Linked DNA regions of Homo sapiens: regions 1, 2, 4, 5 and 6 are each linked to region 3. Evidence: fine-mapped expression QTL. A gene starts in region 3. Each other region holds a variant in brackets. All regions are shown on one strand. Distances are between the middles of the regions. Region 1 overlaps PLXNC1 (plexin C1). Region 2 holds the start of PLXNC1-AS1 (PLXNC1 antisense RNA 1). Region 3 holds the start of PLXNC1 (plexin C1). Region 4 overlaps LOC124902986 (a long non-coding RNA gene). Region 5 holds the start of LOC124902987 (a long non-coding RNA gene). Region 6 overlaps PLXNC1 (plexin C1).

The links.
Region 1: its variant is fine-mapped to the expression of PLXNC1 in whole blood (TOPMed, PIP above 0.99).
Region 2: its variant is fine-mapped to the expression of PLXNC1 in whole blood (INTERVAL, PIP 0.93).
Region 4: its variant is fine-mapped to the expression of PLXNC1 in whole blood (INTERVAL, PIP 0.92).
Region 5: its variant is fine-mapped to the expression of PLXNC1 in pancreas (GTEx, PIP 0.98).
Region 6: its variant is fine-mapped to the expression of PLXNC1 in blood mononuclear cells (TOPMed, PIP above 0.99).

Annotation. Positions count from the first base shown.
Region 1 is chr12:94,178,328-94,182,416 of GRCh38, forward strand. PLXNC1 (plexin C1) reads left to right here. Exons shown (of 31, transcript NM_005761.3): 3 at 3,119-3,253. Among named protein-coding and RNA genes, the nearest start is that of PLXNC1-AS1, 3.9 kb to the left of the region's middle. The variant C/T (reference allele first, on the strand shown) is at 2,548.
Region 2 is chr12:94,172,747-94,176,835 of GRCh38, forward strand. The region is part of intron 2 of PLXNC1 (plexin C1); the gene reads left to right. It overlaps PLXNC1-AS1 (PLXNC1 antisense RNA 1), which reads right to left and starts at 3,717. Exons shown (of 2, transcript XR_007063411.1): 1 at 3,635-3,717. The variant G/C (reference allele first, on the strand shown) is at 2,060.
Region 3 is chr12:94,146,142-94,150,230 of GRCh38, forward strand. PLXNC1 (plexin C1) reads left to right here and starts at 2,436. Exons shown (of 31, transcript NM_005761.3): 1 at 2,436-3,892. The coding sequence starts at 2,831. RefSeq lists silencers at 2,203-2,332, 2,343-2,592, 2,663-2,892, 3,023-3,262, 3,923-4,062 and an enhancer at 3,463-3,562.
Region 4 is chr12:94,113,437-94,117,525 of GRCh38, forward strand. All of the region lies in intron 1 of LOC124902986 (a long non-coding RNA gene), which reads left to right. Among named protein-coding and RNA genes, the nearest start is that of PLXNC1, 33 kb to the right of the region's middle. The variant T/C (reference allele first, on the strand shown) is at 2,026.
Region 5 is chr12:94,237,061-94,241,149 of GRCh38, forward strand. PLXNC1 (plexin C1) reads left to right here. Exons shown (of 31, transcript NM_005761.3): 10 at 604-743; 11 at 3,425-3,604. It overlaps LOC124902987 (a long non-coding RNA gene), which reads right to left and starts at 743. Exons shown (of 2, transcript XR_007063410.1): 1 at 24-743. The variant G/T (reference allele first, on the strand shown) is at 1,747.
Region 6 is chr12:94,265,495-94,269,583 of GRCh38, forward strand. All of the region lies in intron 21 of PLXNC1 (plexin C1), which reads left to right. It also overlaps a transcript of CEP83 not described here. Among named protein-coding and RNA genes, the nearest start is that of PLXNC1-AS1, 91 kb to the left of the region's middle. The variant T/C (reference allele first, on the strand shown) is at 1,704.

The DNA.
Region 1 (4,089 bases), 32 kb after region 3:
TGGCAAGAATACATTATGGGTGGTGCTGCCCAATGATGCTTTTGCCATGATGAATTCCTGAAGAGATACCAGGGCAGCAGCTTCTCTTCTCTTGACCCTTCCTTGATAATATTTCTATCAGTGTTTGTTTAAAAAAAACAAAAACTGGCTTCCTGTTTCTCTTTCCCTATACAACTGCTTTCCAGAACCAGATCAACTGAATCTGAGCTGATTAATACAGCTAATGAATTAGAGACGGCAAATCCTGGCAAGCCCATACCTTGGTCAGTGCCTGTCCCTTGGCTCCACTTACAGGATTCTGTAGAGCAGTGTTGGCCAAGAGAACTTTCTGTAGTGATAGAAATGTTCTACATCTGTACTCTCCAGTATGGTAGCCAGTCACCTTAGGTAGCTAGTGAACACTTGAAATGTTGCTAGTGTTTTTAATTAAATGTAAATTTTTAATTAAATTTAAATAGCCATTATGTGGCTAGCGGCTGTCATATTTGATAGTGCAGCTATAAAGTCGTTTTAAAATGACTTGAGACACACACCTTTCCCACCTCCCTTAGGACCTAACTGCTTCTGTTTTAAAAAGAGCTTTTAAGAAGTCATATTTCATATGTTTGGTTAGTGAGATTGACTTTTACAAAGCTGCTGCTGAATTTGATGAGCAGTCCAAGGGCTTCAAGTGAGCCACTATTTGCACCAAATCCACCTGGGCTTGGCCCAAGCAGATGATGGAAGGAAGTCACTGATCGCAGGGCAAAGCTAGACTCGGGCCCAGGTCCTGGAAAGGAGAAGTGAATGCGGGAAGTTGCTCTGTGCAAAATTGATAAGAAGCCTTTGGCTAAACAGCAAATCCCTAACTGCCATCAGGATATGTGGGAACAGGCATATTATTGATTAGTAGATGTGTGAAGTAGACTTTGTCCAAAAAGAATCTCAGGTGCCAAATTTTTCTTTTGAAACCATGCGCCCAATGTGGCTGATGTCTACAGTGGTAGAGATATGAATACAGATAATCTATCTGGATGTGTTCAAACTGACAAAATGTTGAACACCTTCACTTTTCAAAGTAGTGGGTACAAATTGTGTTAGGTACAAAGAAGATTAAAGGTTAGGTACAAAGGTGATTAAGACATGGTCCCAGGCCAGGCACGGTGGCTCACGCCTGTAATCCCACCACTTTGGGAGGCAGAGGCGAGCGGATCACCTCAGGTCAGGAGTTCAAGACCAGCCTGGCCAACATGGTGAAACCCCGTCTCTACTAAAAATACAAAAATTAGCTGGGTGTGGTGGCGCATGTCTGTAGTCCCAGCTATTCAGGAGGCTGAGGCAAGAGAATGGCTTGAACCTGGGAAGCAGAGGTTGCAGTGAGCCAAGATCGCACCACTGCACTCCAGTCTGGGCGACTGAGTAAGACTCCATCTCAAAAAAAAAAAAAAAAAAAAATGACATGGTCCCTGCGCAAAAGGAGCTTGCAATCTAGTAACAGATTATTATCTATTGACTATTGATTATGTGCTAAGCATCTTTCATAGTTCTTATTTGATCCTTACAAAACTGTAATAAGGAAGGCACTATTAGCCCCATTTTAGAGATGAGGAAATTGAGGCCTAGGGAGATTAAGTTACCAGTTCAAAGTAGTGCAGCTACTTAAAGGATGGAGGCAGGATGCAAACTCAAGCTTAAGCCACCATTATACTTCTCTAGCACTATAGGATTCGAGTCTCCCGATGGCTCTTCATACCCACACTTCAAACCCTGCCTTCTTACCATCTCCTCTTGCTCCTTGACCCAAAGCCCTGCCATGGCCTCCTCTCTCTCATCTACAGTAAAAGGCAGGCTGTTTACACAGGCCCACAAGACCCTTGATTATCATTCCCCTGTTATCTTACTATCTTACTGTTCACTCCTCTACCTCTCTCCACTGAAGCCACCCTGGCCTCCTCCCATTTTAGTTTCTTTGCACTGACAGGGCTGCTTTTAAGAACATGTTTCATTCAAGTATGAAAATAACTCATCTCCTGCAAGTCTAAATAAATATCACCTTTTCAGTGACACCTACCCTGAACATATATTCTCTTAACCCCTGACCCCACTATATTTTATAATTTACTTTTTTCTTATTAATAGTCTGCTGTTACTCACCCCACCATACACACACAGGAATGTAAGTTCTATGAGGTCAGGAGCTCTCCCTTCCCCATTTTGTTCACTGCCATTTTTCAAACACCCAGAACAGTGCTGGGTACATAATGGGTGTTGGGTAGATGTTTGTTGACTGAAGATGGATGAAGCTCAGGTGTGTCCAATTTCAAAACCACTGAGTACTGAGTCACACTTGCGTATATTTTATATGTGAACACAAACCTACTTGTCTGTATCTGCCAAGTTAATCTGGGTCACTTCTAACTGTATGATGATCAGAGTATCCTGTGCAAATACATGTGGGAGCTACTTCCTTTAATTTCCAGTCTCTCTTGAGACAGCACTAATGAAGCTGTCACTTGTGGCTTCCTATAGGGCCAGACATGGTCAGAAATTGTGGTCAGCCAGCTTCCA[C/T]ATATGAGGATACTACCCCAGCCCTGAAGAGCGGCTTTTTTTGTTTGTTCATTTTTGGTAACTTTGCCTTTACAAAAGAAGAAATATTATGCTTGTTATTACCAGCCTTGTTGAGGACTGAGATGTGGGAGGATGATTAAGGAGCATGGTACCTTAGGCAGTATTTGTAGTGAGTGAAAAAGGATGTAGCTTTATGATTAAGCTACAATTTTTGCCACCCTGCTATTCAAAGTGTTGAATAGAGGCCGGAAGTGGTGGCTCACACCTGTTACCCCAGCACTTTGGGAGGCTGAGGCGGGTGGATCACGAGGTCAGGAGATCAAAACCATCCTGGCCAACGTAGTGAAACCCCATCTCTACTAAAAAAAATTAGCTGGGTGTGGTGCATCTATAGTCCCAGCTACTTGGGAGGCTGAGGCAGTGGAATTGCTTGAACCTGGGAGGCGGAGGTTGCAGTGAGCCAAGATCATGCCAATGCATTCCAGCCTGGCGACAGAGCGAGATTCCGTCTCAAAAAAAAAAAAAAGTATTAAATAGAAATCATGTTTCTCTTTTTGAAAAAAAAAAATAGGTTATTCTTGGTGAGAATTTGACTTCAAATTGTCCAGAGGTTATCTATGAAATTAAAGAAGAGACACCTGTTTTCTACAAACTCGTTCCTGATCCTGTGAAGAATATCTACATTTATCTAACAGCTGGGAAAGAGGTAGGTAGAAATACTAGTTATTGCTTCTGATTTATGAATAAAAATGGTTTAATTGATGTCATTATCTAGTAGCAAAGCTTTTACTTTGAACTACAGAGTTTAAGCAGTGCCCCAGGCTTTGAGGAGACCCGCAGTGGTTCACAGGCACGGAATTAAAAACCTTACTGACTGTCAGTAAGTAAGCAAGAAATATTATCTATTTAGACAATTTTATTATTGGCTATATTTCCAGTGCCAAGTTTTTCAGAGGAGGGTGTGCTTGGAAATGGGCGCATAATCAGCAAGGTAACTGAATTTACACATTTATTGTGTGGGCACTGAACGGTTAGATGCATTTATGAATATACCCAATGGGACTGGCTTTGGAATTTGGGGTTAATATCAGGCCACAGTCTCATACACATTCATGAACCAGGAAATATATGGTACTCCCCCTCCCCCTCTTCATTTATCTTGCTGTTTTGGCTTTTCTTTTGCTTCTGCTTACTGAAATAAAAGTAATATATTTTTATATTTTCTTCATCTTTACCAAGTGCTGTCACCAAGGGAAGGGGAAAAGAAACTAATTGTTAATGAGTCTCTACTATGCATTAGTCACTATTCTTTGCATGATCTCTGTCTAGGTGCATAGAATTGTGTACATATACATACACACAAGTGTAGAAAACAGTGTTAATGAAATGTGTTACTGACCGGGCATAGTGGCTCATGCCTGTCACCCCAGCACTTTGGGAGGCTGAGGCAGGAGGATCACTTGAGGCCAGGAGTTTAAGGCTGCAGTGAGCCATGATCAAACCACTGTACCCTAGCCTGGGTGATGGAGCAAGACCCTGTCT
Region 2 (4,089 bases), 27 kb after region 3:
TTTGAACTTAAGCTAAGATACTGGATCACTTTTAAAGTATCTTTAAAGACATGCATTTTCCAAGGAAGACGGCATTACCTCCAAAGGTAAGATTTCACTGATAATCTGTGAAGAAACTAAAGGCTACAGTATGCCAGTACCTTTACTGTCCTCCTTCTCTTGCCTATAGACCTAAGTCCCTTTATAAGATTTTGGGGAAATAGAAGGAATTTAGAGCTCAAAGGGTCCTTTGAGAGCATCTAATCTGCTCTTTTATTTTATCGGTGTACCGTCCCATGGTCGTGAGGTGAGTTATGTCTAGTCACCCCCGCAGTTATTTCCCCATCCTGCTTCTTTTCGGAACATGATTGCATGCCGGGTTTTTTTCAGTCGTCAGCATCTCCACTGAGATCAGCTGAAAAGTATGGTCACACTGAACTCAGCTTTGGGGAATTCACACTGCACGTGTTGCACAATGTATGCATTTCTGTAAACACACACCGAGTCTTTCTCCAGATTATAGTACAGCCTATCATGTGGTTTGGATTCCTTTGAGCTGACTCTGTTGCCCATAGAAAATTGTCCTTATTTCAAAGGCAGAATTGCATATTTTGAGCTTTTCCAGGTGGTAAAGTAAGTAATAACAGAATATGCATGAAATTTGAAATTTGTAACTTTATGCATGCCCATTAACCTTCGTGTAAGCATAAAAGATAAGAAGGCAATGGGCAAGGAAGAATAATCGCTAACATTTCTGAGCTCTTCCTGTGTGCTGGGCATTAGAACCAGCATCTGCACGGGTTAACTGGTTTAATCCTTACCAGTCAATACTCTCACCATCCCCACTTTATAAATGAAAAAACCTGAGGCCTCGAGAGGTTAGGTATCTTTTTCAAGGTGCTCTGAACCAAAATAATCTGTCCCAGAGCCCGAGCTTCTATCCCCCAACTAAACTGCATTAACTCTTACAGAGCTTAGTAGAGTTTGAGAGCTGGTTTTTGTTATATTTCTTTCTAATACTGGGGTATAAGGGTTGATACCAAGATGCAGATGTTTGAGGTTTCATAAGAAGGGGCCGAGAACCCTGTGGTTTAGTTTGTTCCTATTTGGGGATGGCTTCCTGGCAACCCAGCTGAGTGCAGAGCCCGCTCCTCTCTGAGCTGCGCGTAGTCCACGGGGGTCTCTGAATCTCCTTTGGGGCCCCAGCTTTACCCCAGTGGGCTCCTTTGTAGGAAAGGTAGGAATTCTGTATTCAAGTTGCTGTTTTGAATGGTGTCAGCAGTAAAGACTAGTGTCTCCCCGACCTCCCAGGGACTGCAGTAGGGTTCAGGATACAGGAAGCTATATCACATAGCTCTATCCTGTCCCCATATCCAGTCTTGAGGTATTTCCTATGTGCTTGGGCTCAGACTGGTTACCTATGTGGCCCTCTACTCCCACTTAATGGCTTTCTTTTGTTTATTTTTTTTTCTTTTTTGAGCCAAGGTCTGGCTCTGTTGCCCAGGCTGGAGTGCAGTGGTGCAGTCTCGGCTCACTACAACCTCTGTCTCCCAGGCTTAAGCGATCCTCCCACCTCAGCCTCTTGAGTAGCTGGGACTACAGACCTGTGCCCCCACACCTGGCTAATTTTTTTGTATGGACAGGGTTTTGCCATGTTGCCCAGGCTGGTCTCAAACTCCTAGGCTCAAGAGATCCTCCCACCTCGGCCTTCCAAAGAGCTGGGATTACAGGCATGAGCCACTGCACACGGCGCCACTCAGGGATTTCGTTTATTCAAATCACAGCAAAATTAAACCGGTTCCAAAAAGTTCTGTCTGAATTCAAACAGAAGCAAAAACTCTGTACTGCCTAAAGAGTCTGCCTTGACTCTGGTTATTGAAGTTTTTGAATGAATGTCAGAGAAAAAAATCTTTTGTAAAGGCAAGCTGTACTATATACCCAGAAGATGTTCAAATAAGGAATAGGAGAACTTGGGGAACCTAGAACAGGACCTGGGACCGGAAGTGGTGGTGGTGGTGGGGATGACTGAGCTAACAGACCAAAAAGTTAAAACAGGAGGAAGTGTCAAAACTTGGAAGTG[G/C]GTTCATTGGTTGGCTGTTTAGGATGTCATGTGAAGCCTGCTTCAAGTTCTCCCCACCTCATTAATTGCAATTTATGAGTTTGCAGGGACTCCCCAGTTTGAAACTTTTAGTCCCATATAATCCACAAATCTAGAACCTGTGGTTCAGACTGTATGCTTCTCTTACTACCTACACTGCAATAAGTAGATTGGAAACAAAAGAGAAATTTGCCTTGATCTTTATATTTCATCTTTGTTACTCCTAACTACTGAGGCACATTAAATACTTACCTTGCTTTCTCCTGTGTGTGCATGTGTGTGTGTGTGCACGCATGCACAGGCATGCACGTGTGTGTATATGTATGCAGGCATGCACGTGCATATGTGTGTGTGAGCTTGTGTGTGTGTATGTGTGGTTTAAGTCTCCTTCCCAGCATTTCTCAGAAACTGCTTATGGAAAAAAATAATAATAAATGAAAGGGTTGGCTTGTTTGCCCTTCAACTGGTTAGCCCCACAGAGTGAGGCATAGGAAATTAAATTTGGCATAAAATATTATAGCTTTTTGAACACCCGTGGCTTTTCCATCTCATGGTAATCGTAAAGAAAAAAAAATAGTTTTTTGTTTAATTTTTCTCCCCCCTCATTTTCCTCACCATGATATCCTTCCTGTGGGTGATCTTGAACCTGTCTTACAATTGTATGGTGTTGAAATCTCCACTCAGTTAATTTCAGCAGTGTAGTTGGGAGTTTTATATGCAACAAAAATCCCAAGGCTCGTTAATAGTCTACCATGAGGCTTCAGGAAGACATCAACAGAAACAATATGTTGACACGAACTGAAATTCTCCATCAGAGAAAATTTGTTTTCTACACAGGCTTCAGCTGGAAAAAGCTGAAGAGCCCTATAAAATCTTGAATGCTAATAGCGTCGTTTTTCATTTAATAAATATCTACTGGGCACCTTGTATGTGCCAGGCACTGTTCTGGGTGCTGAATATACAAAGGTGAACAAAACAGACAATGCCCTTGCTCTGCTGGTGGGAAGAAAAAGACAGAAAACAAGTAAATGGATTAATCAGCGATAAAGACACTTCAGATAGTGCTATGAAGAAAATACAGTGATGGGTAGAGAGTGACAGAGGTGTTCAGCGGAGAAGTGATCAGGGAAGGCTTCTCAGAGGAGGTGATGTTGGAGACTTGAAAGATAAAGGAGTATACAAGCATACACATGGAGAAGGTTCAGATTGACTTCAGATTAGATCTATATTAAGGTCGTATCCTGGAAGATAAAAATCCACATCGTGCCCAAGGATTGTGTGTGTGAATTGGATGAGATTTCTCTTATGCAAAATTCAACCCGTTTTGGGTTTTTGTGACTCATTGTTACTTCCTGCATTGCTTCACTGATCATGTTCTTTTTCCGAGGCTGCCCACCTAAACTGAGCTGAGGAAGGAACGTTTCCCTTGCTCCAGTCTTGCTGGCTTTTGTCTGTGTGTTGATATTCTCCTGAAGTTTGCAATTAGAAAGTCCAAGTGTTCCATTAGTGCCTGTGGGCTGGGGCTCGGGCTAGGTGAGAGATGATATGAACACTGACCTGTCCTTTAGTCATCTGAGAGAGATGAGACTCCAGGGGCCACGGAAGCAGAAATCCCTCACCCCTCTGTGTAGCACATTTGGGACCTTTGTGGTGAAAACTAAAACTTCCTCTTGTCCTGTCCTCAGGATTATGGAGAGCATTGTTTGCATAATCTAGCAAAAAGAAAAACAATTTGACTCACTCACCCTCAAGGATTTTTAAATTTAAATGTTATATATTTATTTTTAAGGTAATACAATGATATTGTTTAAAACTCAAAAGAACCAAGAAAATATTCCGTGAAAGGCACCTGGTCTTGACTTCCAAGGCAACCAATGATAGTAGTTTCATGGGTATCTTTCCAGAGATAGTTTATATCTGTCTACAGGCAAAAGAGTGAAGATATTCTTCCTCCCTTTTGTTGAAACATAAAACACAGTAAACATATATGTTATATATGTAAAAATACCTGT
Region 3 (4,089 bases):
CAAAATGAAGCAGCAATGAACTGAGTAGTGATCAAAATGCCGCACCACAGAGTATGTTTAATCCAAATAGCTCCCAAGATGGTCTGTGACTGATTGTACCAACTCTACGGGACTTAGAGAAATGACTTGGTTACCAGTGAAGTAAAACTATCTCTGGAATGGAATTGAACTGTTGCTTCTCAGCACATAGCGACACTGCCACCGCTGGTTCACGGAGCCAGTGAAGGTCACTGAGTTCTGCATCAGTCACAGGGAAAACTGTCAAAACACCAGCGCATAAATCCCCTACTATGCTGTGGAGGGGGTCTCTGAGCTTCGGATGAGGTTTTTAAAATATTGATCTTCCCACTTCCAGAGGTGCAAAAATTCTGAAAGCATTCCAGGAGGGCAGGGAGTGGGGGAGCAAGGCCAGATATTTTGGAGCAGGTGAAACATCTGACTTGTCTTGCCTGAGATGTCCCGATTAACACCAACTGGGTACTTTAGGCCTTTCCCCTTCTTCCTCCCCTCTCCTTATGGACACTCCAACACCATCATCACAGCACAAAGGGCAACCTCATATCTCGTGGGAAGGCATTTTCTGCCTCCTGCCAGGCAAAGATAATGTTATCCAATTGCAAATGAAAGGCTTATGAATGAAAAGATGACCACTCTGACTTTAGTGTATGAGAGCCACTGCTGAAATGATAGGATCCTTGAACTTCACATCTAGAGCAGAAACTCACACTTCTCTTCTTCTCCCTCCACCTCACCCTTCTTTCCTTAAGCCTTCCAGAACTCCTGCCATATCCCTCAGCACTGGGGAGAACTTGAAGCACTGTTGGAGAAGTTTGAAACCTGCAACCTTCGGCAGGACTCAGCATGGGACAAAAGCCACCTCATTCCTTTCCCTTCCCAAAACAGCATCTCGAGCTGGGGAACTTGGAGGGAAGGAAGAAAGGGGATAGCAGCCAATTGCCCTCCCTGGGGCCTGGGGTCTGGAAATAGCCTGGGAAGGAACAGAGATCATTTCCCAACGATCCATAGAGGTCCTCAGCACCCTCCACTCCTATGCACCCCCTGGCTCATCTGCCAGACTGTAAGGGTGCTGATGGTGCCCGCAGCTGCCCCGGGAAGCTGGGAGGCATTTGTGCATCCTCTGGGAAGCCCCATTCCGAGAAATCATGAACCTATTCCCCAGTGGGCAATGATTCCCTGTGCTTCAGAAATTCTTGGCGGCTGTGGGGGCAACCCAGCTGTTATTCACCCTCTGGGTGAGGTGGTGAGACCTCAGGGGGTCCAAAGGATAAAAGTGGGTAATGATGAGACAGATGGAGAGCCTCGAGGGAAATACGGGGACTTGGGTCTAATAGTAGAAAGCAGGGCGGGGGCTGGTTGGTGCATTTAACTTGAGGAACTTTTCAGTCTCACTACAGAGAATGATCTCTGGGGGATTATGGCAATGGCCACAGGTGGCACTTAACTAGAGCCAGGTATGTAAGAGGCCCTGGGGCTAGATATGGATTCGAATCTCGGCTCTGATATCTACCAGCAGTAGAATGCCAGCACGTTCCACAACCTTTCTATAACCATTCTCCTGGACTACTAAGTAGGGATGACAATAACAGTCACTAATTAATAGGGCTGTTATGAGAATTATGAGTCTTAACCCATGTGGTGAGTTCACAAGCGCACCCGGCACGTAGTAAGTGCTCAGTAAATGTTAGCCCCGCTCATTAGGTTAGATGGTGAGCAGAACTTTCCAAGTGCTAGGCTTGAGAGCCTGGGACTCTGTTGCCAAGGGAGATTAGAGAACCTTTGCAAATATGGGCGCTCCGGCCCTGGGGATTGTCCAGAACGAGAGTGTGGCGCCTGCCTTTCTGCCACCTCACTCATCCGACCCGGGGAAACCCACACCCTGTCACAGGGGCGCCTTGGTCCCCGGAGTCTCCGGCTCGGCCATGTCTCCCGCGCGCCTCCCCGGGGCCTCCCTCTCGCCGCTCCACACCTGTCAGCCGCTCTCGCAGCAGCCCTGTGGCCCGAGCCCGGGGCCTCAGCTGCAACCCCTTCGCACCCTGGATCCTCGCTCCGCGCGCCTGGCGTATCCCCGACCCGGCTGCTGTCGTAAACAAAACCGGGCGTTGGAGCAGCACCGCGGGCGGACGGGCGCGGGAGCCCGCTCCGTGCGCCGTTAGCGCGCCCCGGGAGCCCCAGGCGAGCCAAGGGGGCGATGGTGGCGGCCGCGGCGGCCGCGGCGGGCGGCTGAGCTTTGTTATGAATAGATGAAAGAGGCCACCTACACAGTAACCCAAATTACGAGACCTCCCTCCTCCCTATCTCACCGAATCAAGAGGGGAGGGGAGATGGGCGTGGAGGGAGGGCGGGCGGGCGGGCAGGAGGCGGAGGGCGGAGGAGGAAGAGAGGATGAGGAAGGGGGCCAGTTGCATCCCACTTTCACAATGGGAAAGTGAAACGCACAAGCGCACCCAACCTCTCCAGCCCTCCCCGCCCGCCTCGCTCCTCTCCGCCCGTCCCCTCCCTTCCCCTCCGCGCCTCCCCGCGAGCGCCAGCGCTGCACACAGGAACTCTCCGGCGAAGGAGGGCGAGGAGGAAACGGTGCCGGAGCGCGCAGGGCTTGCTGCCGCCACCGCCGCTGCACAGGCTGCCGGAGCGAGCCTGCCGCGCGCCGCCCTCCCCGCTCTCCTTCCTGGGCGAGCTGCGGGGATGGGGCGGCCGCGGGAGCCCGAGCGCGCGCAGGAACCGCCGCCGCCGCCGCCCGCGTCTCCGTTGCCGCGCGCCTGAGCCGCCGTCGCCGCCGCGCGCCCTGCCCGGGGGCGGCCCCCCCAGCCCCATGGAGGTCTCCCGGAGGAAGGCGCCGCCGCGCCCCCCGCGCCCCGCAGCGCCACTGCCCCTGCTCGCCTATCTGCTGGCACTGGCGGCTCCCGGCCGGGGCGCGGACGAGCCCGTGTGGCGGTCGGAGCAAGCCATCGGAGCCATCGCGGCGAGCCAGGAGGACGGCGTGTTTGTGGCGAGCGGCAGCTGCCTGGACCAGCTGGACTACAGCCTGGAGCACAGCCTCTCGCGCCTGTACCGGGACCAAGCGGGCAACTGCACAGAGCCGGTCTCGCTGGCGCCCCCCGCGCGGCCCCGGCCCGGGAGCAGCTTCAGCAAGCTGCTGCTGCCCTACCGCGAGGGGGCGGCCGGCCTCGGGGGGCTGCTGCTCACCGGCTGGACCTTCGACCGGGGCGCCTGCGAGGTGCGGCCCCTGGGCAACCTGAGCCGCAACTCCCTGCGCAACGGCACCGAGGTGGTGTCGTGCCACCCGCAGGGCTCGACGGCCGGCGTGGTGTACCGCGCGGGCCGGAACAACCGCTGGTACCTGGCGGTGGCCGCCACCTACGTGCTGCCTGAGCCGGAGACGGCGAGCCGCTGCAACCCCGCGGCATCCGACCACGACACGGCCATCGCGCTCAAGGACACGGAGGGGCGCAGCCTGGCCACGCAGGAGCTGGGGCGCCTCAAGCTGTGCGAGGGCGCGGGCAGCCTGCACTTCGTGGACGCCTTTCTCTGGAACGGCAGCATCTACTTCCCCTACTACCCCTACAACTACACGAGCGGCGCTGCCACCGGCTGGCCCAGCATGGCGCGCATCGCGCAGAGCACCGAGGTGCTGTTCCAGGGCCAGGCATCCCTCGACTGCGGCCACGGCCACCCCGACGGCCGCCGCCTGCTCCTCTCCTCCAGCCTAGTGGAGGCCCTGGACGTCTGGGCGGGAGTGTTCAGCGCGGCCGCTGGAGAGGGCCAGGAGCGGCGCTCCCCCACCACCACGGCGCTCTGCCTCTTCAGAATGAGTGAGATCCAGGCGCGCGCCAAGAGGGTCAGCTGGGACTTCAAGACGGCCGAGAGCCACTGCGTAAGTCCTGCCCCCGGGGCGCCGCGGAGAGCGCTGCTGCCGGGGAGCCGCCGCCGCCGCCGAGGCAGAACGAGCTGGGGGCGAGCGGCGGGGCGGGGGTACAGCCGGGTGACATTTACCAGGTCTCAGGTTCACACCGCGGGCGGCCGTCCGAAGGCTCCTCTCGGACGGTCCCCGAGACCTGGAGCACGGCCTGA
Region 4 (4,089 bases), 33 kb before region 3:
GGTGCCTGTAGTTCCAGCTACTTAGGAGGCTGAGGCAGGAGAATAGCGTGAACCCAGGAGGCGGAGCTTGCAGTGAGCTGAGGTTGCACCACTGCACTGCAGCCTGGGTGACAGAGCGAAACTCTGTCTCGGGGAAAAAAGAAAAGAAAAGAAAAGCACAATGCATGCAATGAGCCTCTATTGTTCCGGGTCCCAGTTGAAAACTTGAAAACATTCTGACCACTCAATATGAGAATGATTAAATAAACAATGGTACACACAATATTGGAGTGTCATATGATCATTAAAGGTAATGTTTCTTCAGACTAATGATCTTGGAAATGTCTCTTGGTGGAACATTAATTTTCAAGACAGAATACAAAATTCATCATAAAGCATGATCTAAATTGTATTTGGAAAAATGTATATGCAAATAAAAAGACTAGAAGCAAATTCAGCAAAATATTAACAGGCTATCTATTAGTGGCACTATTGCTGGTTTTTATCTCCTTTTTATACTACTCCATTTCTCCCAAAATGTGCTAACTTAATAAATAATTTAAGTGAGTTGATTTAATTGAACTAAAATTCAAGCACTTATTAAACACGAGGCATCACTAGCAATTTAATGATGGGCAGAACATAAACGTGGTCTCTGTCCTGAAAAATTGTTTTTATAGTTTTTTTTTTAAATTTTACTTTAAAAAGCAAGATAGGCCAAACATGGCGGCTCATGCCTATAATCCCAGTACTTTGGGAAGTCAAGACAGGAGGATCGCTTGAGCCCAGGAGTTTGAGACCAGCCTGGGCAATATAATGGGACCCCATCTCTACAAAAAATTTAAAAATCAGCTGATCGTAGTGGTGCACACCTGTAATTCCACCTACAGGAGCCTGAGGAAGAAGGCTCGCTTAAGCCCAGGAGGTCAAGGATGTAGTGAGTCATGGTCATGACACTGCACTCTAACCTGGGTGACAGAGCAAGACCTTGCCTCAAAAAAAAAAAAAAAAAAAGGAAGAAAGAATATTCATCATCACTCCTAGAAAACAAATTCTCTCCAGGGTAAGTGTTATCTAGCAGCGTCTTGAAGTGTCACCCACCAAGAGTACCAAGGACTGAACCTTGGTGAATGTCCATTTGTCATTTCTGCCCAAAGCAAGATGCTTGGAACAAGGACTCTTTCCTGGCAGTGACACAAAACTCCCCGCTCTACCACCCTAGAGTAGAAAGCCCCTTGTACCACTTACTTTATAAAATTCAGTCCCCACCTCCCTGCATGCTTACAGTCACTTCATTTCCAGCCCTCCTGAGGGTACATTTCCAAGGATTCTCTCCTGGGAATCAGCCTTCAAGGATTCTAGATGGAAATGCCACGTCCCCACGTGTCTGAAACTTGGCTCCACTACTTGCTGGTTCCTAACGGTACCCAAAGCAGGAGTTTGTGATTAAACCACAGACAAAGCACCAGCCTGAGCAAGCAAGAAAACAGCAGGAGCCCAAGGACTCCTGTGAGCTAAGAGTCTGATGGTTTTCATGCAAATTGTTTTTAGTAGTAGGGAGATAACAGGCAAATAAAATATGGGAGATAGGCAGAGATTTTTCTAAACCAGTGATGGGGGCGGGGGAGTTCTTTCATAAAATCCCAGTGCATCCTTAACAGTAAAGCTATAAAGTTCCCATATTTCTTATCGAGTGGAATAAAATTTGTCTCTCTCAGGGATCCTCCTGCTCCTCCTCTCCCAGCCTAGCACAATCAATGTCTCTTTCCCCTTCTCTAACGTTCCATCTTAGCCTTGACTGAAGAGTCTTTTTCAGAATGGCAATGCTTTCCAATGATGAAAAGCATATTATCAGAGGACGATTTTAAGTGGTAGACAAAATGAGCAATATTTATTCTACTAGCTGTCTATTTATTTTAATGCACTTAGAGTAAAATCTGTCTAGCACATGAAACCTATGATTTTATTATAGGCTATGTTGGCCTAAGTTTTTAAAAGGGAATTAATATAGAGCCAATAAAGAGAAAAGCATTCAGTGAATCATGA[T/C]ATGCATGGTAGGCAAACGCAGGAAGAAACTGTGATGTGGGGCCTACGTGCATGATATTTGGAAAATACGAGTAGGAATTCTGCAACAAATCCAACTCAGCTCCTGGGGAGGGGCCACAAAAATCAGACGGTTCATTGCCGTAACTCAGATGTAGACATTTCCATTTAATTCTGGATCATAAATAAGTCTTTACAGTTCTGAATCCTGGAACCTCCTGAAGTCTAAGATCTGAGTCTTCAAGCTGATAGACTTGGCCTTCAGTAGGGAGAGGTGTTTTGTTTTTAAAATCAGGAAATTTCACATAAAAATGCAGGTTTCTTGTTCTCTTTAAAAATTAAAGATCTGGAAAACCGGGTCTACATCTCTGAGTGGCAATAATCAGGTGACCATAAGCCACAGGAGTGGCTATTATCTGATACTAGGACCTACCCCTGCACTCCTGTGACTGGGGCTGCCTCAGAGACAAAGGCTAGAAAGGGAGTTCCTCCTTTTCTAAGATTTCTCTGCCCTTTCTCCACCTTCTCTTTCTTCTCTCTTCCCTCGCAATCCCTCCTCACCCATACACGTACACGCACACTCATAAACATGTACATACCTCCAGGAGATGAAGACAACTTCTGTCTTCCCTCACTAATTCCCATGGTTTATGTGCCTCAATGCTGGCCCAAATTCACTGGTAATTCCCATGTTGATTATTTATTGCCTTTTAGCTATTTGATTGGCAGAAGATCATATGAAATCATCTAATATGTTATTTTTGTGTAGGATGTGAGATAGGGGGAAAAATTCCATTTTCTCCCTAATTAGTAGATCATGAAGAATAGTAGAGTAGAGAGACAACAGACACATGAATTGGAGCCAGAGTATTTGAATTTGAATCCTAGTTTTCTCATTTCCTGGCTGTGTGATGATCATGGGCAAGTCATTTGACTTCTCTGCACCGTAATTTCCTCATCTGTAATACCAGGATGACAGTATCTATTGAATAGGATTGTTGTAAAGATGAAATTAGTGAACATATATAAAGTGCTAGACTAGAGCCCGGTATACAATAAGGGTTATACAAAGGTGGCCTATTATATGAGTAATGGTCTTCCATTCTATGAACTACCACTGGAATAAACTTTAACTCTGCACCTTGAAATTATTACATCAGTTGTATTCCTTTACCCAACACCATTTATTTAAGGCAAATAAGTGCCAGGCACTGCATAGGGCACTAGAAATATAAAAAATAAGAAAATGTTCTTGCTCTTCAAAGAGCTTCCTATCCCTAATGTATTTGGAATTTGAAGTTAAATTAAGAAAATAACACACAATCATGTTTAAATAAAGATTAAACTAAGCAAAAATCATATGATGATTGTTTAATACGAGTCTTAAGGAGAACAAATAATTAGAATCATTTCAGATTCAGTCCACAAAAATCAATCTTCCAAAAAGTAGGGACAAGATGAGATTTTGAAAGATACCCTCAGGGCCGGGCACAGTGGCTCACGCCTGTAATCCCAGCACTTTGGGAGACTGAAGCAGGTGGATCACTTGAGGTCAGGAGTTGGAGACCAGCCTGGCCAATATGGCGAAAACCTGTCTTTACTGAAAATACAAACATTAGCCAGGTGTGGTGGCACGTGCCTGTAGTCCCAGTTACTCTGGAGGCTGAGGCAGGAGAATCACTTGAACCTGTGAGGCGGAGGTTGCAGTGAGCCAAGATTGCACCACTGCACTCCAGCCTGGGTGACAGAGCAAGACTCCATCTCAAAAAAAAAAAAAAAAAGAAAAGAAAAGAAAAAGAAAGAAAGATATCCTTTAGTAAGAAGCAAAGTCTTGAACTTTGGACCAGAAGAATAAGGGCCAGAGGAAACTGATGGAGGCTTTCAGAAGATCACCAAGGGTCTGTGAGTTACACACACACACACACACACACACACACACACACACCATGTTTGAGGGAACACAGGCTAGTAATGGGAACCAGGAGAATCCATTCAGGGTTCAGAACAGGTAGAATCTGTTCAGTTCTTTTTGTGATTTTAAGTTTCTTGAATTCGCTCTGCTTAAGT
Region 5 (4,089 bases), 91 kb after region 3:
AGGAGGTTGTGGTATCTACAAACCTTGGTTGGCCACAGTGGTTTAGACATCCAACTACTTGATAGTAGGTGACTGAACAGGTTGATTTCTTGAGGTTTTTCCCCCTGCAGTATCCTCCTGGATTCAAATAGCCTCACTGTAACAAAAATATGACTGCTTTCTTGGGAACTGAATTTATCTGGAATGACATTTATTTCAACTTAACGATGAGTCTGTCATTGGCCTACGGTCAATGGACTCTCTTTCTTTTCCTTGATTTTGCTTACATTGTGAGCCTCCAGAGGCTGTAAGGCAGTAAACATTTTCAAAACTCTAGTGATACCTCACTCTTCAGACAGAATATCAGACTTTTCAACTGTATTTTCAACTGTCTTGTGAGACAAAGACTAATTGGTTTGACCTCATGCTGTCACATGTTGAGAGACATGAATCTGCAGCCCTCTTCCTTGAATTCATTGATTTCATTAAACACTGTCTGCTTGTGTTCGCAAAATGTTGTAATTTCCCAGTGATTTCTTCGAACTGCAGCGTATAAACAGATTTTTTTGGAGCGATGCCATTTCTTAGCTTTGATCTCCTGTTTTAATCTTTTCTTTCCAATAGGTCTTCTACATTAAGTCCATTGAGCCACAGAAAGTATCGACATTAGGGAAAAGCAACGTGATAGTAACGGGAGCAAACTTTACCCGGGCATCGAACATCACAATGATCCTGAAAGGAACCAGTACCTGTGATAAGGATGTGTGAGTCGAAATACTAATAATTTATCCTCGGTAACGTAACGCTCAAACCTGTGCCAAAGGAATATCAGTGTGATTATAACCTTAATATAGTCAAATTATTGCCATGCCCCAAAGCAGGCCAATTAGTCAGAGTATTTGACATAATATAATTCCAACACGTAAAATAATTTTCACAACAGATCTGAAGTTCATTGTGAGAGAATCTGTTCTGTGTTATTCCCCAAAAATCTCAGTATATAGTCATTTCAGGATGTTGCCTGTTTGGGGTCTTGATTCATTTTCAGTAACAAAATCAAGTATATGGAGTAGCAAACATCATTCTTTAGGTGATGCACTTGGAAAAATAGTTGAGTACCTTGAAATTTGATGAGGAATTTTTTGGAGCAGCTCTTCCAGTGTGCCACCCAAAGTTGAAAAAACAAAACCTCTTGGATCCATTTTATGTGGACATTTTATTCTTTGTAGCCTTCTCTTTACTGGTTTGGTTTCAGCCTCCAAAAATTAAATTACTACTACATATAATGGTAGTAAAAAAGAACACCCCAACATAAATATCTGGTCAATGTATCTCTTGAACATTATTATTTCTGTCACTTCTTTCCCAAACTCATCACATCGGTGAAACTTGGAGAAAGACTTTTCAATTTCTACCGATGTCCTTGTGCAAATGGTTACTCCCCCTTCGAAAAAAAAAAAGTGATGTGATAACTGCAGTTATTAAATAACACAACAGATTATTTGAGTTTTCTGCTTGTTAACTCATATAAGTTTGGGCTAATTTGAAGTAAAAGATGTTACAGTCTACATAGAGTATAATACTAAGCTTATTTTCATCATGGAAATGCATTTAAGACAATCTGCTGAAGCGTGATGTTTTGATTTTTAACTACTAAAACAGATTTGTACAGCATTCTAATCTGCTATGCTTATTTACTGAATTTTCTTCTTTAATTCATTTTCTGCACATCACTGCCATGCCCTTCCCCTCATAGCAGTAAATTTG[G/T]AATATCTGTGATCTTGATGAGAAAAGCTGCTCATTGGTGGCTTGCCTGTGTTCTGCTATTTGCCAGAATTATCAAGCACACATTAGAGGCTGTATCTATGCAACATAGGTTTTTTTGTGCTGTTTATCCTGGCTAAATACCTTATTGCAAAAATCTTTCATTTTATGTAGCGAAATCTGTGAAGTTAGACACCTGTGTATTCACTGAAAGGCAATCAACTTCATGGAAAATAAGTAGTTTTTCGGAGCATTACCCTGTTTCTGACTCTTTATGTTCTCATTTTAATTCCGAATGTGTCTTGAGATACTGCAGTTATTAAATTAAATGACTAGGAGACCTTTCTGCATGTCGCATTTCAGTAACCACATCTGTGTGGTGAAGCCAAGTTCACAAGCAGTCAACATAATACTCAGTTAATCCTATACCTGAGCCCAGGCTGTAATCCCAAGCTCTTTTAATATGGTACTTTTAAAATGGGTAATTATTTTAAAGAGAAAAATACTAGTAGTGGAATGACCTACATTTTCACCTCTCTTCTTCTGAAATTTATAAACAAGTTTGAATTTTAATGTTCAACCACTTTATGATAAATTTCCTAGAGCTTTGCTCTGAATATAAACCTGAAAATGTGCGTCTGAGGTGGCGTAAGTACAAACTGACTCAGATGTTTTTGAATTTGCCTTATCCTAAAGGGTTAGTGATAGCATTAAAGTTAATCATCATGCACATGGCCTTTAAGTAGTAATAACAGATTCTCATGTAGCACGGTTATACTGAGCATTATTCAGACACAACCCAGGCTTAATGATTTGTGCTTTAGAGGATCATTGTAGACACACAGAGGAAGCTGCAGGTGACAGCGGGAATGTCGGAGAAAGCTTCGCTCTGACTCTGAAAGGGCGCCAAGCATCAGCTGTTGGACATCAGGAGCACCCTGGACAGCCCCAGCTAAGTCCCAGCCTGGATACTCCTTAGGGAGCATGTTGGCCCCAATGCTGATTGATTCTGAGATGCCTGGGCTCTTGGTTTAGGCCCCCTTTGAACAGCAGAATTTCCATCTCTGTCTGGTGCTGTGTTTTACCCTCTCAGTGCTTGACTAGGGCTTTTTTTCTTAAGCTTTTTATTATGGAAACTCAAACATAATACAAGAGAGATGAGTGTAATGAACCTCTCTGTAGCCATTCCCGGTTTCAAAGCCTATCAACATTTTGCCAATCTTGCTTCATCTATCTTATCTGGGATTTTTGGGGGGGCATGATAAGAACCAAACACCATATCCTTCACTGCTAAATACTTCAGTACCTCTCTAACAGATAAGCCATAGTGCCATTATGATACTCAACAGAATTATCCACAATTCTTAACATAATGTAACCCCCAGTTCATGTTCTGCTTTCTATTAGTACTTCTTCAGGGCAATGGTTACACCTCCTTCCTTTCCCACTTCTAAGGGCAATGCAAATAAGAAAGATAAAAATGTACTAAAGAAAGAGGAACCCAACCCCTAATAATACCAACTTGGGTCACTGGCCCCTCATGAGTCAGTAGTTGCCTGCAGCTGTTCTGCTCCTTCATGAAGTGTTGTAGTTCAAGTGAAATTCATTTGCTGTCACCTTGGGTAATCAACTGTGCTAAGTGTCTGTGTCATGTGAGAGTTCTTTTTCTACTCTTTTCTAGGATACAGGTTAGCCATGTGCTAAATGACACCCACATGAAATTCTCTCTTCCATCAAGCCGGAAAGAAATGAAGGATGTGTGTATCCAGTTTGATGGTGGGAACTGCTCTTCTGTGGGATCCTTATCCTACATTGCTCTGCCACATTGTTCCCTTATATTTCCTGCTACCACCTGGATCAGGTACTTTCTAGATTCATAATCTTTTTCTCATTGTGGTTAAAGGTCATATGCCCAAAGATCATTGATTTTATTCAAGTAAATTCAGAAACAGTGGTCATTCCAAATTCCTCTCACCGAGTTCTCCTTAGGATTTACTCCTAGAAAAATGCATACCTGACAAGACATTTGCTTCCCATGCTCATCGTGAATGCTATGAGCACACCTTTTTCCCTTCACCATGGCTGCTGAGAAACTCACAGCTGAAATGTTTGCCTAGGTTTTTGATATAGATATATGACACTCTTTACTATGTGTCCCTCCTGCTTGTGATAAAAGGCTTCTTTCTTACCTCTTTCATTTTATAGACTTTAGATACTTTAAGCTGTTTTGAATTCTTTGGGGGAAATATTGGGAGCTATCAAAATGAAAAGCAGAATCAACCTTTTCAAGATGTTCCCTAAGGGGGAGATGGAAACCCCAAAATAAACTCTCCCAGATAAATCCAA
Region 6 (4,089 bases), 120 kb after region 3:
TTCAGTGTCGTCAAAGGAAATGCAAAGTACTCCCTATTCAGCACTTATAATTGCAATCAGAATTTCTCAAATGGCTCTGCTCTGGGAAGACAATGTGTGAAGATATATTTCAATCAAATTGAGGCCGTCTTATTTTAGAATGATAACACAAGACAAATTCCACCACGTTCCCCATGCAACGTGACGCCCTTTATTTTCATGGATTAGTTACAAATGTTTGGTGTCATGCACTTAATGTACTGTGATCTCATAGATATTTTTAGAGGAACGCTGTAAATCACTACAGGAAGATGATTGCCTAGCTGCTGGAGGGTTTCACCCGCTTGAGAACTTCTTTCTAATTCATCCCCACCGCACCCACCCCATGCTCTTCCTAAAGAAAGAAAGAAAGCCCAGTTTGGGGCACATTTGGGAATTTCAGAGAGGGAGCCAAGCAGGGAAGGTAACTTTAGAATTAGGAATTTTCTATGCTTTTCTGTTAGTAGAGACTTGGAGAAGAGATTGCTGTGTTTTGGTTTGATCTTTAGCTTTATGAAGATTCTGGGCTTCTTCACGATCTCGTTAGTGGAGGAGGAAAAGATTACAGTGGGGTTTGGGAATTGCTCATTAAGAGAGCTGAGTCTTCTGTGGCTTTGCTCTGGATGGTGGGGACTGCAGTGTCATCTGGGAAGAATTCATTCCCTAATTGGAGAAGGCACCACTTTGCCGTGGAGCGTGTTATGGTTATGTCCTCTGGTGGGAGAATAGTCCGTAGGTCAGCTGTTTCAAGTTTTCTGCCACTGCCAGATGCGGCTCACTTCTCCATCAAAGATGGCACCATGCACAGCTGCCATCCGAGAGCGGGAAGCTGAGCTGAAAGTCAACACTTCTCAGCGTTCTGAATTGTATCAATACACCCATCCACATCTGAGAGGCCGGAGAGTGGGCTGCATTGGTTCTCAAACTTGAGCATCTAGCAGAATCGCCCAGAAAGCTCACTAAACACCAGTCGCTAGGCAGCATGCTGGAGTTTCCGATGCAGTAAATCCAGGCTGTGGCCTGAGAATTCACTTCCCTAACCAGCTTCCTGATGCTGCGGGTGCTGCTTAACAACTGTTGGTAGAGTGGTTAACAGCATGGACTCTGGGGCCAGACATTTTGGAATCCTGCCTCTGCCACTGGTTAGCTGTGTAATGTTGGGCAAGTTTCTAAACCTCTCTATGCCTCATTCTCCTCACATGTGAAATGGAAATGATGGTCATGGTTCCTACCCATCTCATGAGGTGTTTTGAGGATTAAGAGTCAGTATTATAAAAAGCACTTAGAACATTGCCAGGCATGTGAGTGCTACCTAAAACTTTATTCCATTTGATCCAGATCTCATTGAACCCTTGTTTAAAATGCAGGTGCAAATATACCAGTGCCCGGGCTTTCCCTCGGGACTGACTGAATCAGAATCTCTGGGGAGGGAGCCCAGGCGTGGATGTATTTTGTAAACCTTCCAGATATCTCTGATGTGTGTTCAGCCTGGACACCACTGGGTATCTTGGAGAACAAGAGACAAACTTTGCACAGGGCCTGTTGACTCACCTTTCGCTGATCCTGGGCTTGTTATTCCTAACCTAGAAGATGTTCATGCCTTTACTTTAAGACGTTTTAGAAGCCCCAAAGGTCTCCAAAGAGAAATATTTGCAAATGATTATAGTCGGGAATCCTCCAGCATT[T/C]CAGTCATGAGACAACACCGGACCCAAACAGGAAAGACAGGAAAGGAGAAGATGGGTTGGAATCAGGAAGAGGTCAGATGTCTGAGGCAACTTTTGAGGTTTTGAAGCCTTTTTAATGCTTTACATCTGAACGTGTTTTCTCCCTTTCATTTCGAAACATTATTTATTTCACAGTCAATTAAGACCATGTGTTTCTGATTTGTTAACACTCGACTCATCATCATAATGTTACTTGATGCTGAAGGAATTCATGTCGACTCTTGAAATTTTTTTTTCTTTATAGCCCCTGGGGAAAAGGGTAATGGAAAATCATGATTTCAGAAATCCACATAAATCTTCCTTTTCAAATTCAGATTTGCCGGTACATAAGATTTGAGCCTTGAAAAGGAATGGGCCACTTGTTTTTAGGGGCCTTGCCTTTAAAAATGATTGTTAGTGCCTCTTATGGGGCCTGGCCCAGCCCCCCTTTCATGGTTGGCAGTTGTACGAGAAGCTGCAGAGAAGGCACATGATCCGTTCTATGCTTGTGTGACAAACTGTTAGCAGAAGGTCAATATAAAAAATTTAAGTTTTTCATTTCCTTTCAGGCATTTCCCCCAGCCTGAACCACCATATTTCTAATTTTCTTTCTTCCTCCCTTCCCTCCTCCCCTTCTTTTTCACTTCCCCCACCTACCCCTCCCAAGCATGTACACCCAGCCATTTTAGGACTTGATTTCCCAAATTTGCCTGAGGTGGTTTATGTAATTGAAAACCAAGGTGCGGTGAACAAACTGATTCTGTGTGTCCTTGTGTGCTGGGGAGGTGGGAGGTTGGGGGCAGATTCTTTCAAGGAAAGGAAAGTCGGAAATCAAGAGCATCCTCACGAACCACTTGAAATGACAGAACCTGGTGCCAAGGCAGGGACACGTTTGGAAAAAAGGCCCCCACACTCGTGTTCAGCTAAATGCTCAGAAGCACAGCACCTCATATAGCAATCTAAAAGTTAGCTTTCACACCTCTCAGATGAGGATGTGTTCTCCCTGAGGTGTGGGGGATTTTCTAGAACATAAAGGCATCTTGCCAATTTCTTATACATGAAATCATGACACTAACAAAGAGGCCCTGGGAAGTAATGTTCTCTTCTTGCATATTGAGAAGAAAATTCCTCTGTCTTGCCAAAAATCCAAGCAAAGTCCCCTAGAGCCATACTTCCTCCAGGACCATAAGAAACCATCCTTCTCTATCAAGCATTCCAGGCTGGTGTTTAATGAGGCAACAGTGAGACAGAATGCCCTGATATCTGCATCCTCCCTAATGTCAGCACCAGGGGTAGGGCTGTGCACACACAGGACTTTAGTCTTTCCTTAATATCTAGGAATTCAGATCAGACAGCTGGAAGAGAATAAGACCTTTTTTTTTTTTTTTTTTTTTTTTAATTTAAGGAATACCACTCTAGTGCAGGCTGGAGTGCAGTGGCGCAGTCTTGGCTCACTGCAACCTCCGCCTCTGGGGTTCAAGCGATTCTCCTGCCTCAGCCTCCCAAATACCTGGGATTATAGGCACCTGCCATCATGCCAGGCTAATGCTTGTATTTTTAGTAGAAACGGGTTTTCGCCGTGTTGGCTAGCCTGGTCTTGAACTCCTGGCCTCAAGTGATCCACCTGCCTTGTCCTCCCGAAGTGCTGGGATTACAGGTGTGAGCAACTGCATCCGGCCGATAATAAGACCTATTGCTCTGCTGGGTTTTTTTCCCCTTTGCAAAATTTTGAACATGTTTGATTTTGTTGATGGAGTATCTCAGACTCACTCAGCTTACGTTTTGTCAAGAGTGGAACTTTGGAGGAGTTAGTGAAAGTTTGAGGATTTCACATGGGAGAAGGGACATTTGCTTCACTTTCAGGAAGAGATGAGAAAAACCAATAACTCGTAGCAAGCGTGCTGAATTAGCAAGAGAAGGTTGACTTGTAATCAAAGTTAAGTGTGAAATGGTTTTTTGAACTCTTAGAAAACGAGCTTGCCAATCTGCTGTATCTGAGAGAGAGCATCTTGGCACCCTGGAAAACTGTTCCGACAAAAATATTATTGCCTTCATTCTCCTATCTATAAGAAAGTTTTCAAGATTATTAGAAATTCTTGAAAAAGCACAAGTACATGCCTGCAGAAATATTAATGCCTCCAATTTGATTTATTGAAGGTTTATGCCAGCCTACCCCAGTCTGTCTCTTTCTCTAGCAGTTACCATTTTGGGACAATTACGTTTAATAAAATATCTCATATACAACAGAGCCCTAGGTGTCTCCACCAGGAGTTTCTTACTAGTATACTTCCTTTAACAGTGCTCTGCCTACCAGTGCTGGCTGCTTCTGTTCCATTTAGTTTGTCCTTGCAGAAGATCCATTAGCCCC